7 linked regions of the Homo sapiens genome follow. The protein of the gene in region 1 purifies or fractionates together with the protein of each later gene. This does not show direct contact. Each region holds a gene or a part of one and is shown on either strand. Other genes may lie near its edges. The genes, in order: RABGEF1, HGFAC, OTUD5, TAX1BP1, VTI1B, UBR1 and BIRC2.

Region 1 (2,692 bases):
CTGACATTTATAAGCAATTTAGTTACATTCTAGATCCCAATCAGTTGAGTGTAGTAAGGGCTACCTACAATTTAGGCTCAAATAAATACTCTCCACTAAATTGTGATCATCCTGCATAAACTTGAGGTTGCAGTGGTGGAGGAAGTTTATCATTTTCAACGTTTTCAGAGTCAATAGCTGCTAACGGTTGATTCGGAGGCTTAATTTCCAGTGGGTATTTCTCAACGATGTCTTGAACTTCTCTTGCAATTCCATCTGTCCAATCTATGAGGTCTTTTTCCAGTTTCTTGGCTTCATTCATGATCCTTTCTTGTCGTTCATTCAACTGAGACAAGAGATCCAAGTTCTTATACATTTGCTTGACGCCTAAGCAAGCATCAGGAGACCAACTCTCAGCTTCTTGCTTCCTGGGAGAGGTCTGGCCAGACATGTAGCGATCAAAATCCTCCTGACTTAGATTCAAAGACTGGGCGTCTAGCTTCTCAATGAAAGCCACAGCACAGCACTACAAGAAGAGGACGTTAATACAGTCATATTAGGAAAGCTATGCATACTCGAGTCGATTTGTAAAAATCTTTTGATCACAGACCATTTAAAACAGAAGCTAAAGTAAACAAAACAAACTCATGAACTTCTGTGTATTTCAGCCTCAAAAATTACCTACTCCTATCCCCGGTCGTGCTTCCTATACACTCCCAGGAGCTCCAGGGCCGATGTCTGGGTGCAGCCTCCCCAGGTGCACCATGAAGCCATTCTGTCTGAGTCTTCCCAGACCTGCTATCCCCACCCAGGATATAGTCCCCAAGTAGGTGTGGCACACAGACCTCTGATCCTCAAATGAATATTTTAACATCAAGTGGTTAAAAGAACAGCTCCAGACCGGGCCCGGTGCCTCAAGCCTGTAATCCCAGCACTTTGGGAGGCTGGGACGTGTGGATCATGAGGTCAGGAGTTTGAGACCAGCCTGGCCAACATGGTGAAACCCCATCTCTACTAAAAATACAAAAATTAGCTGGGCGCAGTTGTGGGCGCCTGTAATCCCCGCTACCTGGGAGACTGAGGCAGGAGAATTGCTTGAACCTGGGAGGCGGAGGTTGCAGTGAGCCAAGATCACGCCACTGCACTCCAGCCTGGGTGACAGAGCAAGACTGTCTCAGGAAAAAAAAAAAAAAGGAACAACTCTGAAGTGACTGAACCTGAGTTCACTGTCACCTCTTTCACTTAACAACAACAGTGAGTGACCGTGGGAAAGTTACTTAAGCTCTCTGAGGTTTCTGTACCTGTAAATGGGGGGAAATACCACCTAGATTTATTGTGAGAATTAAACAACATAACATGTCACGTGCTTCCGAGAGGCCTGCAGCGAGCAATGAATACACGGTAGCAATTATTAGTACAGACATGGCACTGCAAATGCCCAATTCAACAGACATCTGAGCCAGGCGTGTTGGCTCGTGCTTGTAATCCTAGCACTTTGGGAGGCCGAGGTGGGAGGATTGCTTGAGACCAGGAGTTCAGACCAGCCTGGGAAACAGTCGGGGTAGAAACCATCTCTAGAAAAAAGGAATAAAGAAAAAGAAAAATCTGATTCATCTGAGTAGAACGGAACACCATCTGGCTCATGGTGTGTGTGGAGTTGCTGTGGCCCCTCTGTGACCTGGAAAGAGGAGGTGATTCTAACTCCTCACTTAGGTGAATGGAGACATGGCATTGCCACTAAAAGGAATAGAGAATACTGGAAAAGAAACAAACATCTGAAGGGGAAGTAGCTCTGAACAAATTATATTTGAGGTGCAATACAAGTGTAAGGTCAAGACAGGTGACCCAGAGCTGCAGGCCATCACTGCACAGTGAGTGACAGCTCTGTGACAGAGAAGATGGTGCAGGAAGAGAGATGCAGAGACAATGGAGTCCCATGGAATGACACAATTCAAGGTGGAAGTAGAAGACACAGACTTTACAAAGAGACAAGGAAGTAGTGGAATTGTGGAAGCCAAGGAACAACAGAAGTTGCAGAACAAAGGACTCTTGGAGAGTGCTATGAGAAGCGAAGGAAGATGAAGACTGTGAGTGCCCGTGGGGTTCGTCAGCTGGAAACTTTTTACTTTTGCCAGAGCAGTTTCATTGGAGCAATGGGTGTAGGAGACAGACTCTGAGTCAGGCAAGAAGAGGACAAAGAGAGAAGGCACAAATGTACTTAAGGCTGCAGGCCAAGGGCACTAGAAGCTGCTAAGTGTGTGCAAGCCAGCCACCTCTACTGTCAGTGACCGTGGCTACGCTCAAACACGTCCTGGTCCTCCTCCACTTCTCTCAATACCTGCCATGTCTCCACCTTCACACTTCTCAGGGACTTCCAGGTTGTCTGACTCGCTTTGGATAAAGAACTGAATCCAAAACGCTCTTCCCTCGTAGGCAAGTGTATGTTTCATTTATATTAAGAAATATGAGGCCAGGTGCGGTGGCTCATGCCTGTAATCCCAACACTGTGGGAAACTGAGGTGGGTGGATTGCTTGAGGTCAGGAGTTCGAGACCAGCCTGGCCAACAAGGTGAAACCCCGTCTTTACTAAAAATACAAACATTAGCCGGGCATGGTGACACACATCTGTAATCCCAGCTACTTGGGAGGCTAAGGCATGAGAATCACTTGAACCCAGGAGACGGAGGTTGCAGTGAGCTGAGATCACACCACT
Region 2 (2,586 bases), on another chromosome or scaffold:
CCCGGTGGCTGGGGGAGGGCTGGTCCATGCAGCCTCCAGCCCCCCTTGCACAGCCCCCCCAGGGACAGCGTCTCCGTGGTGCTGGGCCAGCACTTCTTCAACCGCACGACGGACGTGACGCAGACCTTCGGCATCGAGAAGTACATCCCGTACACCCTGTACTCGGTGTTCAACCCCAGCGACCACGACCTCGGTGAGCTCCGGCGTGTCGTGGCTGCACTCTGGGCAGGTGGGCCCTGTGCTCCCCAGGCCAGGCCCAGACAGGGGCAGGAGCTGGGCAGACATGTGGTGCGGGGGAAGCTGGGGGCAGGGCAGGGAGGACAGGGCACCGCTCCCTTCTGGATCTCCCAGGCTGCCCTGTGGACCCCACTGGCTACCCTCCCTCCACCACGGGCCCCGACAGCCTCCCGTTCAGCCCGCACACCACAGGCTGACCCTGGCCACTCTTCTGATCAGTCCTGATCCGGCTGAAGAAGAAAGGGGACCGCTGTGCCACACGCTCGCAGTTCGTGCAGCCCATCTGCCTGCCCGAGCCCGGCAGCACCTTCCCCGCAGGACACAAGTGCCAGATTGCGGGCTGGGGCCACTTGGATGAGAGTGAGTTGGGAGGGGGGCGCCCAGCGCCCCGCCAGGGTGGACAGTGGCCAGCCACAGTGTGGGTGTCACGCTGAGGGCATTGTGTCCCACAGACGTGAGCGGCTACTCCAGCTCCCTGCGGGAGGCCCTGGTCCCCCTGGTCGCCGACCACAAGTGCAGCAGCCCTGAGGTCTACGGCGCCGACATCAGCCCCAACATGCTCTGTGCCGGCTACTTCGACTGCAAGTCCGACGCCTGCCAGGTGAGCTGGTGCCCGCCCCACCAGGACCCGACTGGTGGGGGCTCAGCTGGTCCTGAGTCTCCGAGATGCTTGCCCCTGGGGAGCCCAGAGCCTGGCGGCACCCCAACCTGGCAGGGCCAGCCAGGGACCCCTGGGCAGGGAGCACACTTACTGTCGGTGGCCAGCACCCCAGGGCCACCCAGAGCCCTGCCGGAAGGGCATCCTCCTCACACAGAAGGGGAGACCCAGGCTCTGAGAGGGGCCTGGGGTCCCACAGAGCCCGGACAGTTCCTGGCTGTCCAGCCCAAGGCAGTGCTTTCCGTGTGACACTAGGCACCAAAGGCCCCTTTGCCCCGAGTTCTCTCAAGCCAGCTCTTCAACCTTCAATAAGTTCTTCAACCTTCAATAAGCCCAACAGCCCAACCACGTCCTGGGCTCTGCAGGCCTGTGTGCTCAGGCGGCACGGCAACCCTGGCATGCGACGGCTCTCTTATGCCCCATTTTATAGCTGGGGAGACTGAGCCCCAGGCAGTCAATTCACTCTTCCAAGGCCACAAAGCCCAGGAGTGGTAGAGTGGGTAGGGCTTGTCACTGGACCTCGATAAGGGAAGTCAGGATGGTTTCCTGGAGGAGGGAGTGTTTGCACTGGTCCTGAGTGATGCGTAGGAGTTTTCCAGGGAGTGAAGAAGTCATTTCAGGAGGTGCTGGGACACAGGGTGGCTGTGTGGTCCACACAGGGTTCATGCTGGTGGGGAGAGGGGGACCGTGGCTTCAGGAAGGGGAATAACGTGGTTGGATGCCCTGGCCCAGCCAGTGCTGCCCCCAGGGAATGAGACACCTTTTCATGAGGTTCAGGAGAGTGGATCAGCTCCCTTGCTCAGAAATGCCTTTGTCCTCTGTCCCCAAGCTGCCACTTGGGGGAGAGGGGGGTCCCTGAACCAGGCCCCTGGGAGGGTGGCTCTGACCAACGTCTCTGCCCAGGGGGACTCAGGGGGGCCCCTGGCCTGCGAGAAGAACGGCGTGGCTTACCTCTACGGCATCATCAGCTGGGGTGACGGCTGCGGGCGGCTCCACAAGCCGGGGGTCTACACCCGCGTGGCCAACTATGTGGACTGGATCAACGACCGGATACGGCCTCCCAGGCGGCTTGTGGCTCCCTCCTGACCCTCCAGCGGGACACCCTGGTTCCCACCATTCCCTGCCTTGCTGACAATAAAGATATTTCCAAGAACCCGGCCCACGCTGCCTGGCCCCTGCCTGCGGCCCCGCCTTCCCCTCCAGGCCATGACTGGGGCCCAGGTCTATGCGCAGCAGGCCTCAGGCTGCCGTTCTGGAGCGCACACAGTCCTCAGTGGAGACGGAGCCTGTGGCCCCACAGCGGGGTCTGGCCCCACGGCCCAGAGAGTTGTCAGGGGATGAGGTCTGGGCCTCTCCAGGCCCCAGCAGAGTCCAGCCCCCTCCCAGGCCAGCCCCAGGCCGGGGCTCAGCACCTGGGTTGTCCCAGGGCAGGAAGTGGAAACCAAGTCCAGGCCCCCAGGCGTGGAGGGGTCCGATCCGCGTGGTGCACGGAGTATTGAACCTGAAGAAGAAAGAGCGGCCCCACGGGAACACCCGCAGGCCGTCGTTGGTCTTCCAGATGGCAGCCCGCCTGCCTGAGCCTGGGCTGCACTTCCCGGGAGGGAGGAGGCCACAGGCTGCCTCTGTGGGGGCTGAGGGAGGGAGGGGCCCATGTGCTAGATGGGGCCCAGTTAGAGGGTCACTGCTGGGCA
Region 3 (2,618 bases), on another chromosome or scaffold:
GTGGCCGAACTGCATGTGGCGCTGGCTTTCCGGGGCTGCAGCGGGGAAGGTAAATGCGTTAAGGACCACCAGCAGCCATGACCTTCTTGTGACCCATCCCTGAATGCTGGCTCCCTTCCCAGGACCTTGGCTATGATACAGCTTCTATGTAGGTCAACATCATCCCCACTCACACGGTGGACCACAAGACTCCTCACAGGACAGAGGTGGAGCTCCTTACCCTTTCTCTCACACCCCTACAGCCAATCTGACAGGAAACCCTGTTACCTCTATCTTGAAAATAGATCTCAAATCCAACCCCTTCTCACCAACTCCACTGCCAGCACTGGCCACCAGTCACCTGGCCTACTGCAGTAGCCTCCTCCTCACTGGCCCCTGCTTCTGCCCTCACTCACCAGACTCCACTGGATGACTAGCAGGCAAGGCGATCTTATTAAATCCCCAACCACATCCTGTCCGTCCTCTGCTCACAATCCTCCCATGGTTTCTGCCTCTCTGAGAGTAAATGCCAAAGTCCTCGCCACAGCCCACAAGCCCCTACCCAATTGGACCCACAACCTCTCTGACTTCATCTACTACTACATTCTGTTCGGATACACCGGCCTCCCTCTGGGCTGTGCCTGAGTTGTACCAGGTGTGTGGGCCTGCTGTCCTCCCCTCCATGTGCGCTCAGCTAACTCTCACCTTCTGCAAGGCTCAAATCTCACCTGCTCTGAGGCCTACCCTGACTGCGCTATTTCATACCGTGAACGCACATTCCTGCTCAGCCCCTTTATCCTGGCTCTACACTTTCCATCCATAGCACTTCCCAACTAATTTATTCATTATATTTATTATTTTATTTCACTCTGCAAAACTGTGAACATCACAAGGACGGGGATCTTGGTCTGCTGGGCTCACCTATGTATCCCCATATACTGAAAACAGGGCCTGCCACAGACTGGTAGTAGGTATTTGTGGAATAAAACTCAGCTCCTTCAGCCGGGTGCGGTGGCTCACGCCTGTAATCCCAGCACTTTGGGAGGCCGAGGTGGTCGGATCACGAGGTCAGGAGATGGAGACCATCCTGGCTAACACGGTGAAACCCCGTCTCTACTAAAAATACAAAAAATTAGCCAGGCGTGGTGGTGGGCGCCTGTAGTCCTAGTTACTCCGCAGGCTGAGGCAGGAGAATGGCATCAACCTGGGAGGCGGAGCTTGCAGTGAGCCGAGACTGCGCCACTGCACTCCAGCCTGGGCGACAGAGCAAGACTCTGTCTCCAAAAAAAAAAAAAAAAAAAAACTCAGCTCCTGCCAGCCAACATCTACAATCACTCCAAACTCCTTGCGATTTTACAATTCCTCAGATGCTTGTCTGCCCCGCCCCTCCCCGCTCCCCTAACAATTCAACCTTCCTCTGTGAAGACTAACCGGAGCCCCCACCTCCACTGATCTCCCAGTCAGGGTCAAGGACCCCACCATTGAGTTGTCTCTGCCAACAGACGAGATCGTTGAGGGCAGAGTAGTCCAGATCTGATGTTACATTCTCAGTAGAGACCTGGCACACAAGGGCAGTCAACAAAAGCTTGTGTCTCTGAAGCTATCCATTATTCTCGTGTCACCAGCAGCATGGCTGCCCTCCTCTCACTCCTTAAGTGCCTGTTCTGCACAAGTATTTAAAGTTCCAAGGTACAATGCCAAAACTAAGACCAAGATGAGTTACAGATGGTGCTGGATGCTTCCTTCCCTCCCAGATGTCAAAACTGCTTAATTTTTTTCTGCTCGCTTGAGGGCAAAGCATGAGAAGTAATGAGTTTTTGGCCAAGCCTGTGACAGAGTCCATGACCCACCTGGCTGGGGCCTCGGACCTGGCGAGCCTGTTTCTCCTGATCCCGCAACCACTGCAGGTAGGATTCCCGAGCCACCTGCTCCTCGATGGCTTCATTTGTGGCCTCCCAGTCTGTGGCCCGTTTCTTGTCTTCTAGCATCTGCTGTTCAATCCATGACTCCTCCGATGTTTTTATGGCATTCTTCATCAGAGACTGCTCTGCAAACTGCAAGGAGGGAGAGGAACAGGGATGTGCAATAACACACTGAACCTGCCCAAGAGCCAGAACAGGCTCAGCGAGGTAGGCCCACAGGCCCCAGAAAAAAAAGGAGACAGGAAAGCAGGTACTCCCAAAGAGCAACACTCCACAGACTACCTCTTGATTGGGGACCAAGGGAAAGCAGGCTTGGGATGTGGGACCTGTCATTCCAAACTCCTATGCTTGTAAGACCTGACTCTAACCCCCAAACCACCTCAACTGAGGCACTGAGACTGGAGCAGTCAGGTGCCTTCCAACCTGGGACTTATTTTTTTTTTTTTTTCTGAGACGAAGTATCGCTCTGTCGCCCAGGCTGGAGTGCAGTGGGGTAATCTCGGCTCACTGCAACCTCCGCCTCCCAGGTTCAAGGGATTCTCCAGCCTCAGCCTCCCAAGTAGCTGGGATTACAGGTGAGTGCCACCACCCCCGGCTAACTTTTTTGTATTTTTAGTAGAAATGGGGTTTCACCATGTTGGCCAGGCTGGCCTTGAACTCCTGACCTCAGGTGATCCACCCGACTCGGCCTCCCAAAGTGCTGGGATTATAGGTGTG
Region 4 (3,576 bases), about 39 Mb from region 1:
CCCCCAGGCTGGAGTGCAGTGGCGTGATCTCAGCTCCCTGCAGCCTCTGCCTTCTGGGTTCAAGCAATTCTCCTGCCTCAGCCTCCTGAGTAGCTGGGACTACAGGTGTGTGTCACCACGCCTGGCTAATTTTTTGTATTTTTAGTAGAGACAGGATTTCACCGTGTTAGCCAGGATGGTCTCGATCTCCTGCCTCGGCCTCGACCCGCCTTGGCCTCCCAAAGTGCTGGGATTACAGGCATGAGCCACCGTGCCCGGCCGCTTTTTAGCAAATTTTTAAAAAATCAAAGAATAATCCTTTATTATTGAATGCGAACTTGGTTCTGGCCAAACACACATTTAACAATTCTCAACTAGAGTTTATATATCCTTCTTTGTATATCTAGGATATGAATAGATATTTCTGTCCTTCAGCATTCCATTTACTATATTTTACAGTATACTGACCTTTAAGTTATTCTGAACAGGAAGATAATATAAGGGGCAAAATACTTTTTAACAGTCTTATATTCTGCCTTTCTACAGCAGAGGCAGATTTTGACATAGTAACAAAGGGGCAAGTCTGTGAAATGACCAAAGAAATTGCTGACAAAACAGAAAAGTATAATAAATGTAAACAACTCTTGCAGGTAAGTTAACTACCTTGTAAGTGAAAGAGATTTATAAAATGTTAATGACTTAGCTTACCTTTATTGTTTCAATTGATTGGTATCTTTGAGTTTCTTTTCCATCTCCATATAGTGTTACTTAGTTTCACTTTGGCTTTTGGGATGATGAGGTGGGCGTTTTGTGTACCTGTTCACATAGGCGTGTGTGTAGCATCATGAGACCTAAAGTTACTATTTTCTTTTCACCTAATAAAATGTTCTTGTTTGGGTAATGGGCAAATAGTTAATTGAGGTTAGAAATTATCTGTCATCGTATAAAGATGCATGAAAAATATTTGAACTTCATAAAAGGGAAGTGCTGTTTTTAAATTTACTATTATCGGCCAGGTGCGGTGGCTCACGCCTGTAATCCCAGCACCTTGGGAGGTCGACGTGGGTGGATCGCTTGAGGCCAGGAGTTCGAGACCAGTCTGGCCAACATGGTGAAACCCTGTCTGTACTAAAAATACAAAAATTAGCCAGGCTGTGGTGGAGCATGCCTGTAGTCCCAGCTACAGTCTCCTGAGGCAGGAGAATCACTTGAACCCGGGAGGCGGAGGTTGCAGTGAGCCGAGTTTGCACACTGTACTCCAGCCTAGGCAACAGAGCGAGTCTCTAAAAAAAAATAATAAATAAAATAAATTACTATTATAATAGCAAAGATTTTTACATCTTAAAGTGACTAGACTTGCATAGTGGAAAAGGGAATGTTAACCAAATGAATTGTCTCTTACGGTGTTTATTTTGATTATTATTATTTTATTTTATTTTTTTTTTTGATACGGAGTCTCACTCTCTCGCTCAGGCTGGATTGCAGTGGCGTGATCTCAGCTCACTGCAATCTCCGCCTCCTGGGTTCATGCCATTCTCCTGCCTCAGCCTCCCAAGTAGCTGAGACTACAGGCGCCTGCCACCACACCCAGCTAATTTTTTGTATTTTTAGTAGAGGCGGGGTTTCACGATGTTAGCTAGGATGGTCTCTATCTCCTGACCTCGTGATCCACTCGCCTCGGCCTGTCAAAGTGCTGGGATTACAGGCATGAGCCACCGCGCCCGGCCTATTTTGATTATTTTAAACAGCTTCATTCAGACTTTTCTGGTTTGCAGCCTTCTTGGTGTAGTATTCAGTACTGGAATATTTAAAGGAAAAGGGAAAATGCTTCTCATTTATATCAATTTGGCATAGAGAGGAAAAAGTGTTGTTTGTGCAAGTGATTTTTGTTTGTTTTTTTAAATGTGCTTTGTGTGTTTTTGTGTGCATTGGGGAGGGGAGGGGCATTTTTTAGAGCTATAGAATAAAATTTACACATTAGCTTCATGTTACTGTAATTTAATTTACAGTAATTATTTAAAATATTTTGTTGCTTATAAATAGCAAAATCTTTTAACCAAAGTTAAAATGAATTTTTTTTTTTGCTTGAGAGAATCCTGTGGAAGGGTTGATTAGAACAGTTTTACTCTTGAATTCAGGGTAGTTTTTTGTAAGAGTGAACTACATTTTCGTTAAAGATGAAACAATTCTGGATGAATATTTCAAGATTTTTCTATAGAAATAGTATTGAAAGGAAGATAGAATAATGTTCAAGCAAAAACCTTCCTCAGGGTGCTTTTTTTTTTTTTTAAACAACCATATTGAGGTATAATTGAAATCCAATGAATTGCACGTACCTAGAGTATACAGTTGGATCAGTTTTGACATACACAGTTGTGAAACTATCACCACAGTGCCATCACTCTCCCAGTTTTTTTGGTACCTGTTTGCAACACATCCCTTTCGTTATCCTTATCTCTAGGAAATTATTGGCCTGCTTTCTGTCACTATCAATTAGCCTACCTTTTAGACAATTTTATAAAATGGAGTCATGTAATATGTACTTTTTTCTACCCACTTTCAGCATGATTATTTGAGATTTATTCATATTATTGCATATATTTATTCCTTTTTTATTTTATCATTTGTTTATCCATTCACCACTTGATGGGTAGTTGGGGTTGTTTTTCGGCTGGTACAAATAAAGCTGCTTATGAACATTTGTTTAGAAGTTGTTTATGGACATATGTTTTTTTTTGTTTCTTTTGGGTAAATATCTAGGGGTGAATTGCCTGGGTGATATTGTAGTTGAATAACTCTGTAAGAAATTACCTCCTGGGTGCAGTGGCTCATGTCTGTAATCCCAGCACTTTGGGAGGCCGAGGTGGGAGCATCACTTGAGGTCAGGAGTTTGTGACCAGCCTGGCTAATATGGTGAAACCCTTTCTCTACTAAAAATACAAAAATTAGCTGGGCATGGTGGTACACTCCTGTAATCCCAGCTACATGGGAGGCTGGGGCAGGAGAATCGCTTGAACCCGGGAGGTGGAGGTCGCAGTGAGCCAAGACTGCACCACTGCACTCCAGCCTGGGTGACAGAGTGAGACTCTGTCTCAAAAAAAAAAAAAAAAAAGAAATTACCAAACTGTTTTGTAAGGTGTTTGTACCATCTTACATAGCCAGCCTAATGGGTGTGTACTGATAGCTCATTGTGGTTTTAATGTGCATTTGTATAATGACTTGATGTTGAGCATCTTTTCTTATGCTTATTTGCTCTTTATCTCTTTGTGTGAGTGGTCGAATCTTTTTGGTAGTTTAAATATAGGGTTGTTCATCTTGAGTTGTGTTTTTTTTTTTTCTGTATATGTCTTTTGTCTGATATATGTAAGGTGAATATTTTCTCCAAGTCTGTAGCTTGCCTTTTCATTTCCTTAATGATGTTTTTAGAAAAGCAAAATTTAAATTTTGATAAAGTACAGTTTATCAGTTCATTTATGTTTTATGCTTTTTACCTTCTAAGGAATGTTTGCCTAATCCAAGGAGATAAAGATTTTCTCCTGTGTTGTCTTCTAGAAGTTTTATAATCAGCTTTTCTATTTAGGTCTGTGAATCATTTTG
Region 5 (3,576 bases), on another chromosome or scaffold:
GGGGCCAAAATTCTGGTCGCTGCTAGTACTCCGCAGAAATAGTTGGCCCTGTATTTGCTACCCGAGAGCAGATGGAGAAAAAATTCTCTTTTGGCCAGCGAACTTCCTTCTTGCTTGTTGAAGATCAGTGTTTCAATTTCCCACTTATCCCAATGAAGTTCTGAGAAGGAAGCACATCTGCATCCTTTTCTCTGTTTTGCATCTGTTTTAAGAAAGACCAGGCCACTAGACTGTGGGAACTATCTTCTTCCTAATGGGAGTACTGGGAGCTTTTCTTAATACCTGTGTACAGCTGGGCATATCCATGATACCTGTTTGTAGCCATTCTCCTGTTTCAGTTAATACCTTGGTAGCATTTTTAAAATCTTCTAGCTGCTACTGATTTGTTTGATGCTCAGATACTTGTTTTCTCCAAACTCAGCAAAAGTAATAATCCTATGCTGCCCATTCCAGGCAGATGAAAATAATTTAGGGCCTCTTGTGGATGTGTCCAGGTGTTACATTTTACTTACCCCAGAAAAATGGAAGTCTGATTCCCCTAAAGCAGACTGCTCTGGGTAGGCCCCTGTTCTCTCTGACATGGAGACAAACTTAATTGATTTTCAGAAAGAGGAGCAGGAGAAGGGAAGAACCCTGATGCCAGACCCCTATCATTTTTAATACAGTAGACTTCAAAGCACTTCTTGATGGCAATGTTCAATCATACCAGGCTAAAAACTTGGTATATTGAAGAGAGCTGAGAGAATTTGAAGATTTTGAATCCTGACTCCTTTTCTGTTTAATTTTTTATATATATATAGAGATGAGGTCTTGCTATGTTGCCCAGGCTGTGCTCAAGTGATCCTCCTGCCTCGGCTTCCCAAAGTGCCAGGATTACAGGTTTGAGCCACTGTGCCTGGCCCGGACTCCTTTTTGTGCGATCTTCAGAGGTTTCTTTAAGTCTTATATATGAAATGGAGCATTTCCTACCTTATTGATTTGTTGTGAGGATTAAATGGAGAATGTATATAAAAGTGTTTAGTAAGCTATAAAGTACTTCTGTTTTTCCATTCATTCATTCAGTTCATATACTCGAATGCCTGCTCTGTGCTTGCTGGGCACTATGCAAGGCATTCAGAATGAGGGGAACATGCCAGACATGGTCCCTGCCTCATGGAGCATATGGTTATTTACTTGGTGTAGTCCAAATAAATAAGTAGTTTGATTAGTCCAAACTAGGCATATTTCCAAATGAGTGAGGGAAGAACCAGGCTATCTGCTCACTACTTTCTGCCTTCCCAGCTGGCAGAGATGGAGGAGGAGCTACGTTATGCACCCCTGTCTTTCCGAAACCCCATGATGTCTAAGCTTCGAAACTACCGGAAGGACCTTGCTAAACTCCATCGGGAGGTGAGAAGCACACCTTTGACAGCCACACCTGGAGGCCGAGGAGACATGAAATATGGCATATATGCTGTAGAGAATGAGCATATGGTAAGTTTTAGCTGTTTTGTTTGTTTTTTTTTTCCTTTAAGGGCCTGTGGTACAAAAATTAACTATATTGTTGGGGTATTTCATGTTATCAGTGTATACTAGACTCTTGTTTCATTTTTTTCACCCTTATCCTCTTTTCTGCATCCAGTTCCTGTTACCCCTTGGTATCTGCTCTATTTAAGGCAGGCCTTTCGAACTATATGCATATTTAGATTTCTTTTTATCCTTAATATAATACAGTCTTATAATAAAAAAAAAACAGTGCTTTGTATGTAGTAGAATGTAAATGTTACCTATTCTTATTATCTGGATTCTGACTCATTGATCTAATTTCTTTTCTCCTTGATCTTTTTTATTCTCTCATATAAATTTTAGAATCACTTTCTCAGGTATGCCTGGAAAATTCAGTTAGGTTTCTAATTTATCAGAATATTGTTACAAAATCAATCCAAGCTTTCCTTTACCTTAATGTCAAGATGGCCCAGCAACTGAGATACAGTAGCCAATGCAGGGCGCTTCTCGAGAAGGAGCTTTTTATCATTTTATTCTGTGGTAATAGAAAGTGAGCAAGACTCCCTCTCTAGCTTTCAGGATTCTGATTTATAAAATTGGACTAATTGAACATCTGTATTCTGAAACCATCTAGAGCAGCTAGATCGTTAAAGGAATAAAACGTCTGAAAGATTAAATGTGCTGCATTTGGTCTGTCTTCCACAAACACAACACAAAGTAGAAATTCTCTGGCAAGTAGCATGGCAGAGAAATGGAAAGGGGCCCACCAGTGCAGACTGAAAGGCTCATACTACAATTTTAAACAAATCCTGTTTCACGATGCATCCTGATTATAGTTTAAGAGATATTCAGGATGATATTGGCTTGACATTGCTGATGCCAAAACTAGATCCCTTGAGAATGAAGTACTTAAAATTTTCAAATGGATGCGCGAGGGATTATCACAGATTAGAAGCTGACAGAAGATCACTTGTAAAGGGAGACTGGAAACAGGCAGGCAGGTGGAGCTGGTTAAAGTGGGAGTTGTAAAAGTGACTTTAGTCATGTTGCCAAAGTTGGGGAGGAAGTCCAAACAATTTTGCTTTAAAATTATGAGTTTCAGAAATTATTATTATTTTTTTTGAGACGGAGTCTCGCTCTGTCACCCAGGCTGGAGTGCAGTGGCGCAATCTCGGCTCACTGCAAGCTCCACCTCCCGGGTTCACTCCATTCTCCTGCCTCAGCCTCCCAAGTAGCTGGGACTACAGGCGCCCACCACCACGCCCGGCTAATTTTTTTTTGTACTTTTAGTAGAGACGGGGTTTCACCGTGTTAGCCAGGATGATCTCCATCTCCTGACCTTGTGATCCACCCGTCTCGGCCTCCCAAAGTGCTGGGATTACAGGCATGACCCACCACGCCTGGCGAGTTTCAGAAATTATTAAAACATAATTTAGGTATCCATACCTTCAGAAAAAGTATTGTTCCAAATCTGTCTGAAGTTCATTTATGTGATCTGATCTTTTCTTAGTCATTTTTTAGCCTACTCAGTTGAAAATCTGCATCTTTTATTTTGAAAACCTTTTTCCTTCTTCCTTTGCGCTAACCTAACTGGTTTTATTTGAACCTCATTCAGTGGTTTCCTCGTCTACTGGTCTGTATGCCATTTATTAAGTGAAAATGCTACAGAGCGCCGGGCACAGTGGCTTACGCCTGTAATCCCAGCACCTTGGGAGGCTGAGGCTGGTGGATCACCTGAGGTCAGGAGTTCGAGACCAGCCTGGCCAACATGGTGAAACCCTGTCTCTACTAAAAATACAAAAATTAGCTGGGCGTGGTGGCGGGTGCCTGTAATCCCAGTTACTTGGGAGGCTGAGGCAGCAGAATTGCTTGTGCCCGGGAGGCAGAGGCTGCAGTGAGCTGAGATCTTGCCACTCCACTCCAGCCCGGGCGACAGAGCGAGACTGTCTCAAAAAAAAAAAAAAAAAGAAAGAAAGAAAATGCTCCTTGCTACTTCTGTTCTGGGAGCCAATCTTTTGGCTCCTTGATGGTCCTACTGCCAGTGGTCACTTGCTCTGTACTAGGCCTCTGTGAGCTGGGTCCCTTTTGATT
Region 6 (3,576 bases), on another chromosome or scaffold:
ATACAATAAAATGTACCCATTTAAGGCGTTTCTTGGATAAATTTTAACAAATGTATATACTTGTGTGACTACCACCAAATCAGGTTATAGAATATTTCTGTTATTTCCCAAAGTTGTCTCCTGCTGAAATGGGAGGATTTTTTAAAAGTTTAATATTGTTATGGTTACGCAATAATCATTATGGAAATCAAAGAAAAATGTACCCATAATCTCATATCTGTAGGGGAACTTTTTTTTTTTGTTTTTTTGGAGACGTCACCCAGGCTGGAGTGCAGTGGTGCAATCTTGGCTCTCTGAAACCTCTGCCTCCTGGGTTCAAGCAATTCTCTTGCCTCAGCCTCCCGAGTAGCTGGGATTACAGGTGCACACCACCATGCCCACCTAATTTTTGTATTTTTAGTAGAGACGGGATTTTGCCGTGTTGGCCGGGCTGGTCTCAAACTCCTGACCTCAGGTGATCCACCCGCCTCAGCCTCCCAAAGTGCTGGGATTACAGATGTGAGCCACCGTGCCTGGGCTATAGGGGATCTTTAAAATACAACATAATCTCTTGACTTCAATATAGAAGTGAGGAGTTATATGTGATTTTAATTGGAGATGATTTTCCTTAGAAATTTGAATCTATATTGTTTTAGGCCAGAGCACAGTTTTGTGTAGTAAGGACACACTCTGAGTGGGAAAACTGATGAAAATGTAGGTCTTTTGAGTCTAACTGAAGTACTTTGTCACCAGATCTTAGCAAGACCTAATGGCTTTTGTTTTTTCACCATCTCATAATTTCTATTTTGGGGAGTTAGGGAAATTTTGATTTTTTAATGCCAGATTCTATAGAATTAGATGTGAAATTGAGTTCTAAAACTCTAAGTCAAAATGACTGATTCAGCCCCACTAACTAAGAGTCTAGGGAAGGAACAGTAACTTAGTGTAGATGTGCTAGTGCTGGAAACTGACTTCTTATAATACCAAACATCCTGCAAATGAAAAGGTTTTTGTCCTCAGTACTGCACAAAGAGTGTGTCTGGATAGATACTTTTATAAATCAGTGATACAGATGAACCAGTGAAATACAGGCATACCTTATTTTATTGAGCTTTATTATTGTGCTTTGTAGATAATCAGTTCTTTACAAATTGAAAGTCTATGGCAACCCTGTCTCAAGGAAGCCTTTCAGTGCCATTTTTTCAACATTGTGTGCTCACTTCGTGTCATTGTGTCACATTTTGGTAATTCTCACAATACTTCAAACTTTTTCATTATTATATCTGTTATGATGATCTGTGATCAGTGACCTTTGATGTTACTATTGTAATTGTTTTGGGGTGCCATGAACCACATCCATAAAAGACAGCAAACATAATAAAAAAAGCTGTGTTTGTTCTGACTGCCCCACTGACCAGCTACTTATCCATCTCTCTCCGTCTCCTTGGGCATCCCTATACCCTAAGATGGGACAATACTAAAATTAAGCCAGTTAACCCTACAATGGCCTCTAAGTATTCTAGTGAAAAGGAAAGTTCAACATTTCTCACTTTAAATCAAAAGCTAGAAATGATGAAGCTTAGTGAGGAAGGCTGTTGAAAGCTGACATAGGCCAAGAGTTATGCCTCTTGTGCCAAGCAGTTAGCCAAGTTGTGAATGCAGAGGAAAAGTTCTTGAAGGAAATTAAAAGTGCTACTCTAGTGAACAGACAAATAATAAGAAAGTGAAACAGCCTTACTGATGATGTGGAAAAAGTTTTAGTGCTCTGGATAGAAGATTGAACCAGCCACAATATTCCCTTAAGGCAAAACCTAATCAAAGAGCAAGGCCCTCACTCTCTTCAGTTCTCCGAAGGCTGAGAGAAGTGAGGAAGCTGCAGAAGAAAAGTTGGAAGCTGGCAGAGGTTGGTTCGTGATGTTTAAGAAAAGAAACCATCTCCACAACATAAAAGTGCAGCGTGAAGCAGTAAGTGCTGATTGATGGAGAAGATGCAGCAAGTTATGCAGAAGATCTAGCTAAGATAATTGATGAAGGTGGCTACACTAAACAGATTTTCCATGTAAACGAAACAGCCTTCTGTTGGAAGAAGATGCCATCTAGAGCTTTCATAGCTAGAGAGAAGTCAATGCCTGGCTTCAAAGGACAGGCTGACTCTCTTGCTAGCGGCTAATGCAGCTGGTAATTTTAAGTTGAAGCCAATTTCCATTTACCATTCAGAAAATCCAAGAATACTTAAGAATTATGCTACTCTGCGTATGTTGAATAAATGGAACTAGAAAGCCTGGATGACAGTACATCTGTTATAACATGATTTACTGAATATTTTAAGTCCACTGTAGAGAACTGCTGAGAAAAAAAAAAGATTCTTTTCAAAATATACTGCTTATTGACAATACATTTGGTCACCCAAAAGCTCTGATGGAGATATACAAGGAGATAAATGTTATTTTCATGCCTGCTAACACAATATCCATTCTGTAGCCCATGGATCAAGGAGTAATTGCAACTCTCAACTCTTACTATTTAAGAAACACATTTCATAAAACTATAGCTTTCATAAATTACGATTCCTCTGATAGATGTGGGCAAAGTCAATTGAAAAACTTTTGGAAAGGATTCAGCATTCTAGATGCCATTAGGAACATTCATAGTTTGTGGGAGGAGGTCAAAATATCAACATGAACAGGAGTTTGGAAGAAGTTGATTCCAACCCTCCTGGATGACTTTGAGGGGTTCAAGACTTTAGTAGAGGAAGTAACTGCAGATGTGGTAGAAATAAGAGAACTAGAATTAGAAGTGGAGGTTGAAGTTATGACTGAATTGCTGTAAACACATGATAAAACTTAATGGATGAGGAATTGTTTCTTCTGGATGAGCAGAGAAAGTGGTTTCTTGAGATGGAATCTACTTTTGGTGAAGATGCTGTGAACATTGTTTAAATAAGAACAAATGATTTAGAATATTCCATAAACATAGTTGATAAAGCAGCCGCAGAGTTGGCAAGGATTGACTCCAGTTTTGAAAGAAGTTCTGCCATTGGTAACATGCTATCACATGCTACAGAGAAATCTTTTGTGAAAAGGTCAATCAATGTGGCAGACTTCATGGTTGTCTTATTTTAAGAAATTGCCTGGCCGGGCGCGTTGGCTCACGGCTGTAATCCCAGCACTTTGGGAGGCCGAGGTGGGCGGATTGCCTAAGGTCAGGAGTTTGAGACCAGCCTGACCAACATGGTGAAACCCCATCTCTACCAAAAATACAAAAATGAGCCAGGCGCCTGTAATCCCAGCTACTCGGGAGACTGAGGCAGGAGAATTGCTTCAATCCGGCAGGCGGAGATTGCAGTGAGCCCAGATCGTGCCACTGCACTCCAGTCTGAGGGATAGAGTGAGACTCTGTCTCAGAAAAAAAAAAAAAAAGAGAGAAATTGCCATAGCCACCCCCACGTTTAGCAATCACCAACCTAATCAGTCAGCCATTAATATTGAGGGAAGATCCCCCTATCAGCAAAAAGATGACAACTTTCTAAAGACTCAGATGATCATTAGCATTTTTTAGCAGTATTTTAACATTAAGTACATTTTTAAAGACTTCATA
Region 7 (3,576 bases), on another chromosome or scaffold:
GAATAGGAGTGGTGAGAGAGGGCATCCCTGTCTTGTGCCCGTTTTCAAAGGGAATGCTTCCAGTTTTTGCCCATTCAGTATGATATTGGCTGTGGGTTTGTCATAGATAGCTCTTATTATTTTGAAATAGGTCCCATCAATACCTAATTTATTGAGAGTTTTTAGCATGAAGGGTTGTTGAATTTTGTCAAAGGCTTTTTCTGCATCTATTGAGATAATCATGTGGTTTTTGTCTTTGGCTCTGTTTATATGCTGGATTACATTTATTGATTTGCGTATATTGAACCAGCCTTGCATCCCAGGGATGAAGCCCACTTGATCATGGTGGATAAGCTTTTTGATATGCTGCTGGATTCGTTTTGCCAGTATTTTATTGAGGATTTTTGCATCAATGTTCATCAAGGATATTGGTCTAAAATTCTCTTTTTTTGTTGTGTCTCTGCCCGGCTTTGGTATCAGAATGATGCTGGCCTCATAAAATGAGTTAGGGAGGATTCCCTCTTTTTCTATTGATTGGAATAGTTTCAGAAGGAATGGTACCAGTTCCTCCTTGTACCTCTGGTAGAATTCCGCTGTGAATCCATCTGGTCCTGGACTCTTTTTGGTTGGTAAGCTATTGATTATTGCCACAATTTCAGATCCTGTTATTGGTCTATTCAGAGATTCAGCTTCTTCCTGGTTTAGTCTTGGGAGAGTGTATGTGTTGAGGAATTTATCCATTTCTTCTAGATTTTCTAGTTTATTTGTGTAGAGGTGTTTGTAGTATTCTCTGATGGTAGTTTGTATTTCTGTGGGATCAGTGGTGATATCCCCTTTATCATTTTTTATTGCGTCTATTTGATTCTTCTCTCTTTTCTTCTTTATTAGTCTTGCTAGCGGTCTATCTATTTTGTTGATCTTTTCAAAAAACCAGCTCCCGGATTCATTGATTTTTTGAAGGGTTTTTTTGTGTCTCTATTTCCTTCAGTTCTGCTCTGATCTTAGTTATTTCCTGCCTTCTGCTAGCTTTTGAATGTGTTTGCTCTTGCTTCTCTAGTTCTTTTAATTGTGATATTAGGGTGTCAATTTTAGATCTTTCCTGCTTTCTCTTGAGGGCATTTAATGCTATAAATTTCCCTCTACACACTGCTTTGAATGTGTCCCAGAGATTCTGGTATGTTGTGTGTTTGTTCTCATTGGTTTCAAAGAACATCTTTATTTCTGCCTTCATTTCGTTATGTACCCAGTAGTCATTCAGGAGCAGGTTGTTCAGTGTCCATGTAGTTGAGTGATTTTGAGTGTTTCTTAATCCTGAGTTCTAGTTTGATTGCACTGTGGTCTGAGAGATAGTTTGTTATAATTTCTGTTCTTTTACATTTGCTGAGGAGAGCTTTACTTCCAACTATGTGGTCAATTTTGGAATAGGTGTGGTGTGGTGCTGAAAAAAATGTATATTCTGTTGATTTGGGGTGGAGAGTTCTGTAGATGTCTATTAGGTCCACTTGGTGCAGAGCTGAGTTCAATTCCTGGGTATCCTTGTTGACTTTCTGTCTCGTTGATCTGTCTAATGTTGACAGTGGGGTGTTAAAGTCTCCCATTATTAATGTGTGGGAGTCTAAGTCTCTTTGTAGGTCACTCAGGACTTGCTTTATGAATCTGGGTGCTCCTGTATTGGGTGCATATATATTTAGGATAGTTAGCTCTTCTTGTTGAATTGATCCCTTTACCATTATGTAATGGCCTTCTTTGTCTCTTTTGATCTTTGTTGGTTTAAAGTCCGTTTTATCAGAGACTAGGATTGCAACCCCTGCCTCTTTTTGTTTTCCATTTGCTTGGTAGATCTTCCTCCATCCTTTTATTTTGAGCCTATGTGTGTCTCTGCACGTGAGATGGGTTTCCTGAATACAGCACACTGATGGGTCTTGACTCTTTATCCAATTTGCCAGTCTGTGTCTTTTAATTGGAGCATTTAGTCCATTTACATTTAAAGTTAATATTGTCATGTGTGAATTTGATCCTGTCATTATGATGTTAGCTGGTGATTTTGCTCGTTAGTTGATGCAGTTTCTTCCTAGTCTCAATGGTCTTTACATTTTGGCATGATTTTGCAGCTGCTGGTACCGGTTGTTCCTTTCCATGTTTAGTGCTTCCTTCCGGAGCTCTTTTAGGGCAGGCCTGGTGGTGACAAAATCTCTCACCATTTGCTTGTCTGTGAAGTATTTTATTTCTCCTTCACTTATGAAGCTTAGTTTGGCTGGATATGAAATTCTGGGTTGAAAATTCTTTTCTTTAAGAATGTTGAATATTGGCCCCCACTCTCTTCTGGCTTGTAGGGTTTCTGCCGAGAGATCCGTTGTTAGTCTGATGGGCTTCCCTTTGAGGGTAACCCGACCTTTCTCTCTGGCTGCCCTTAACATTTTTTCCTTCATTTCAACTTTGGTGAATCTGACAATTATGTGTCTTGGAGTTGCTCTTCTCGAGGAGTATCTTTGTGGCGTTCTCTATATTTCCTGAATCTGAACGTTGGCCTGCCTTGCTAGATTGGGGAAGTTCTCCTGGATAATATCCTGCAGAGTGTTTTCCAACTTGGTTCCAATCTCCCCATCACTTTCAGGTACACCAATCAGACGTAGATTTGGTCTTTTCACATAATCCCATATTTCTTGGAGGCTTTGCTCATTTCTTTTTATTCTTTTTTCTCTAAACTTCCCTTCTCGCTTCATTTCATTCATTTCATCTTCCATTGCTGATACCCTTTCTTCCAGTTGATCGCATCGGCTCCTGAGGCTTCTGCATTCTTCACGTAGTTCTCGAGCCTTGGTTTTCAGCTCCATCAGCTCCTTTAAGCACTTCTCTGTATTGGTTATTCTAGTTATACATTCTTCTAAATTTTTTTCAAAGTTTTCAACTTCTTTGCCTTTGGTTTGAATGTCCTCCTGTAGCTCAGAGTAATTTGATCGTCTGAAGCCTTCTTCTCTCAGCTCATCAAAGTCATTCTCCATCCAGCTTTGTTCCGTTGCTGGTGAGGAACTGCGTTCCTTTGGAAGAGGAGAGGCGCTCTGCGTTTTAGAGTTTCCAGCTTTTCTGTTCTGTTTTTCCCCCATCTTTGTGGTTTTATCTATTTTTGGTCTTTGATGATGGTGATGTACAGATGGGTTTTCGGTGTGGATGTCCTTTCTGTTTGTTAGTTTTCCTTCTAACAGACAGGACCCTCAGCTGCAGGTCTGTTGGAATACCCTGCCGTGTGAGGTGTCAGTGTGCCCCTGCTGGGGGGTGCCTCCCAGTTAGGCTGCTCGGGGGTCAGGGGTCAGGGACCCACTTGAGGAGGCAGTCTGCCGGTTCTCAGATCTCCAGCTGCGTGCTGGGAGAACCACTGCTCTCTTCAAAGCTGTCAGACAGGGACACTTAAGTCTGCAGAGGTTACTGCTGTCTTTTTGTTTGTCTGTGCCCTGCCCCCAGAGGTGGAGCCTACAGAGGCAGGCAGGCCTCCTTGAGCTGTGGTGGGCTCCACCCAGTTCGAGTTCCTGGCTGCTTTGTTTACCTAATCAAGCCTGGGCAATGGCGGGCGCCCCTCCCCCAGCCTCGCTGCTGCCTTGC

Evidence for each region.
Region 2: the proteins of RABGEF1 (region 1) and HGFAC purify together in Homo sapiens (affinity purification with mass spectrometry; 2 studies listed by BioGRID and IntAct, with this or other methods). This does not show direct contact.
Region 3: the proteins of RABGEF1 (region 1) and OTUD5 purify together in Homo sapiens (affinity purification with mass spectrometry; 2 studies listed by BioGRID and IntAct, with this or other methods). This does not show direct contact.
Region 4: the proteins of RABGEF1 (region 1) and TAX1BP1 purify together in Homo sapiens (co-immunoprecipitation; 3 studies listed by BioGRID and IntAct, with this or other methods). This does not show direct contact.
Region 5: the proteins of RABGEF1 (region 1) and VTI1B purify together in Homo sapiens (affinity purification with mass spectrometry; 2 studies listed by BioGRID and IntAct, with this or other methods). This does not show direct contact.
Region 6: the proteins of RABGEF1 (region 1) and UBR1 purify together in Homo sapiens (affinity purification with mass spectrometry; 2 studies listed by BioGRID and IntAct, with this or other methods). This does not show direct contact.
Region 7: the proteins of RABGEF1 (region 1) and BIRC2 purify together in Homo sapiens (co-immunoprecipitation; 3 studies listed by BioGRID and IntAct, with this or other methods). This does not show direct contact.

Annotation. Positions count from the first base shown.
Region 1 is NC_000007.14:66,806,699-66,809,390, reverse strand, and holds part of RABGEF1 (rab5 GDP/GTP exchange factor), read right to left. Parts: intron 1,554-2,692; coding exon of another isoform or gene 1,515-1,553; exon of another isoform or gene 506-1,514; coding exon 107-505; 3' UTR 1-106. UniProt on the Homo sapiens protein: Rab effector protein acting as linker between gamma-adaptin, RAB4A or RAB5A. Involved in endocytic membrane fusion and membrane trafficking of recycling endosomes. Stimulates nucleotide exchange on RAB5A. Can act as a ubiquitin ligase.
Region 2 is NC_000004.12:3,447,439-3,450,024, forward strand, and holds the end of HGFAC (hepatocyte growth factor activator serine protease isoform 2 preproprotein), read left to right. Parts: intron 1-53; coding exon 54-193; intron 194-456; coding exon 457-597; intron 598-689; coding exon 690-838; intron 839-1,798; coding exon 1,799-1,981; 3' UTR 1,982-2,048; downstream 2,049-2,586. UniProt on the Homo sapiens protein: Serine protease that hydrolyzes the inactive zymogen hepatocyte growth factor (HGFsc) to an activated disulfide-linked heterodimer, then initiating hepatocyte growth factor receptor signaling pathway.
Region 3 is NC_000023.11:48,924,018-48,926,635, forward strand, and holds part of OTUD5 (OTU domain-containing protein 5), read right to left. Parts: intron 2,034-2,618; coding exon 1,830-2,033; intron 36-1,829; coding exon 1-35. UniProt on the Homo sapiens protein: Deubiquitinating enzyme that functions as a negative regulator of the innate immune system. Has peptidase activity towards 'Lys-48'- and 'Lys-63'-linked polyubiquitin chains. Can also cleave 'Lys-11'-linked ubiquitin chains (in vitro).
Region 4 is NC_000007.14:27,795,591-27,799,166, forward strand, and holds part of TAX1BP1 (tax1-binding protein 1), read left to right. Parts: intron 1-525; coding exon 526-629; intron 630-3,576.
Region 5 is NC_000014.9:67,657,628-67,661,203, reverse strand, and holds part of VTI1B (vesicle transport through interaction with t-SNAREs homolog 1B), read left to right. Parts: intron 1-1,281; coding exon 1,282-1,473; intron 1,474-3,576. UniProt on the Homo sapiens protein: V-SNARE that mediates vesicle transport pathways through interactions with t-SNAREs on the target membrane. These interactions are proposed to mediate aspects of the specificity of vesicle trafficking and to promote fusion of the lipid bilayers.
Region 6 is NC_000015.10:43,095,997-43,099,572, reverse strand, and holds part of UBR1 (E3 ubiquitin-protein ligase UBR1), read left to right. Parts: intron 1-3,576. UniProt on the Homo sapiens protein: E3 ubiquitin-protein ligase which is a component of the N-end rule pathway. Recognizes and binds proteins bearing specific N-terminal residues that are destabilizing according to the N-end rule, leading to their ubiquitination and subsequent degradation.
Region 7 is NC_000011.10:102,371,206-102,374,781, forward strand, and holds part of BIRC2 (baculoviral IAP repeat-containing protein 2), read left to right. Parts: intron 1-3,576. UniProt on the Homo sapiens protein: Multi-functional protein which regulates not only caspases and apoptosis, but also modulates inflammatory signaling and immunity, mitogenic kinase signaling, and cell proliferation, as well as cell invasion and metastasis.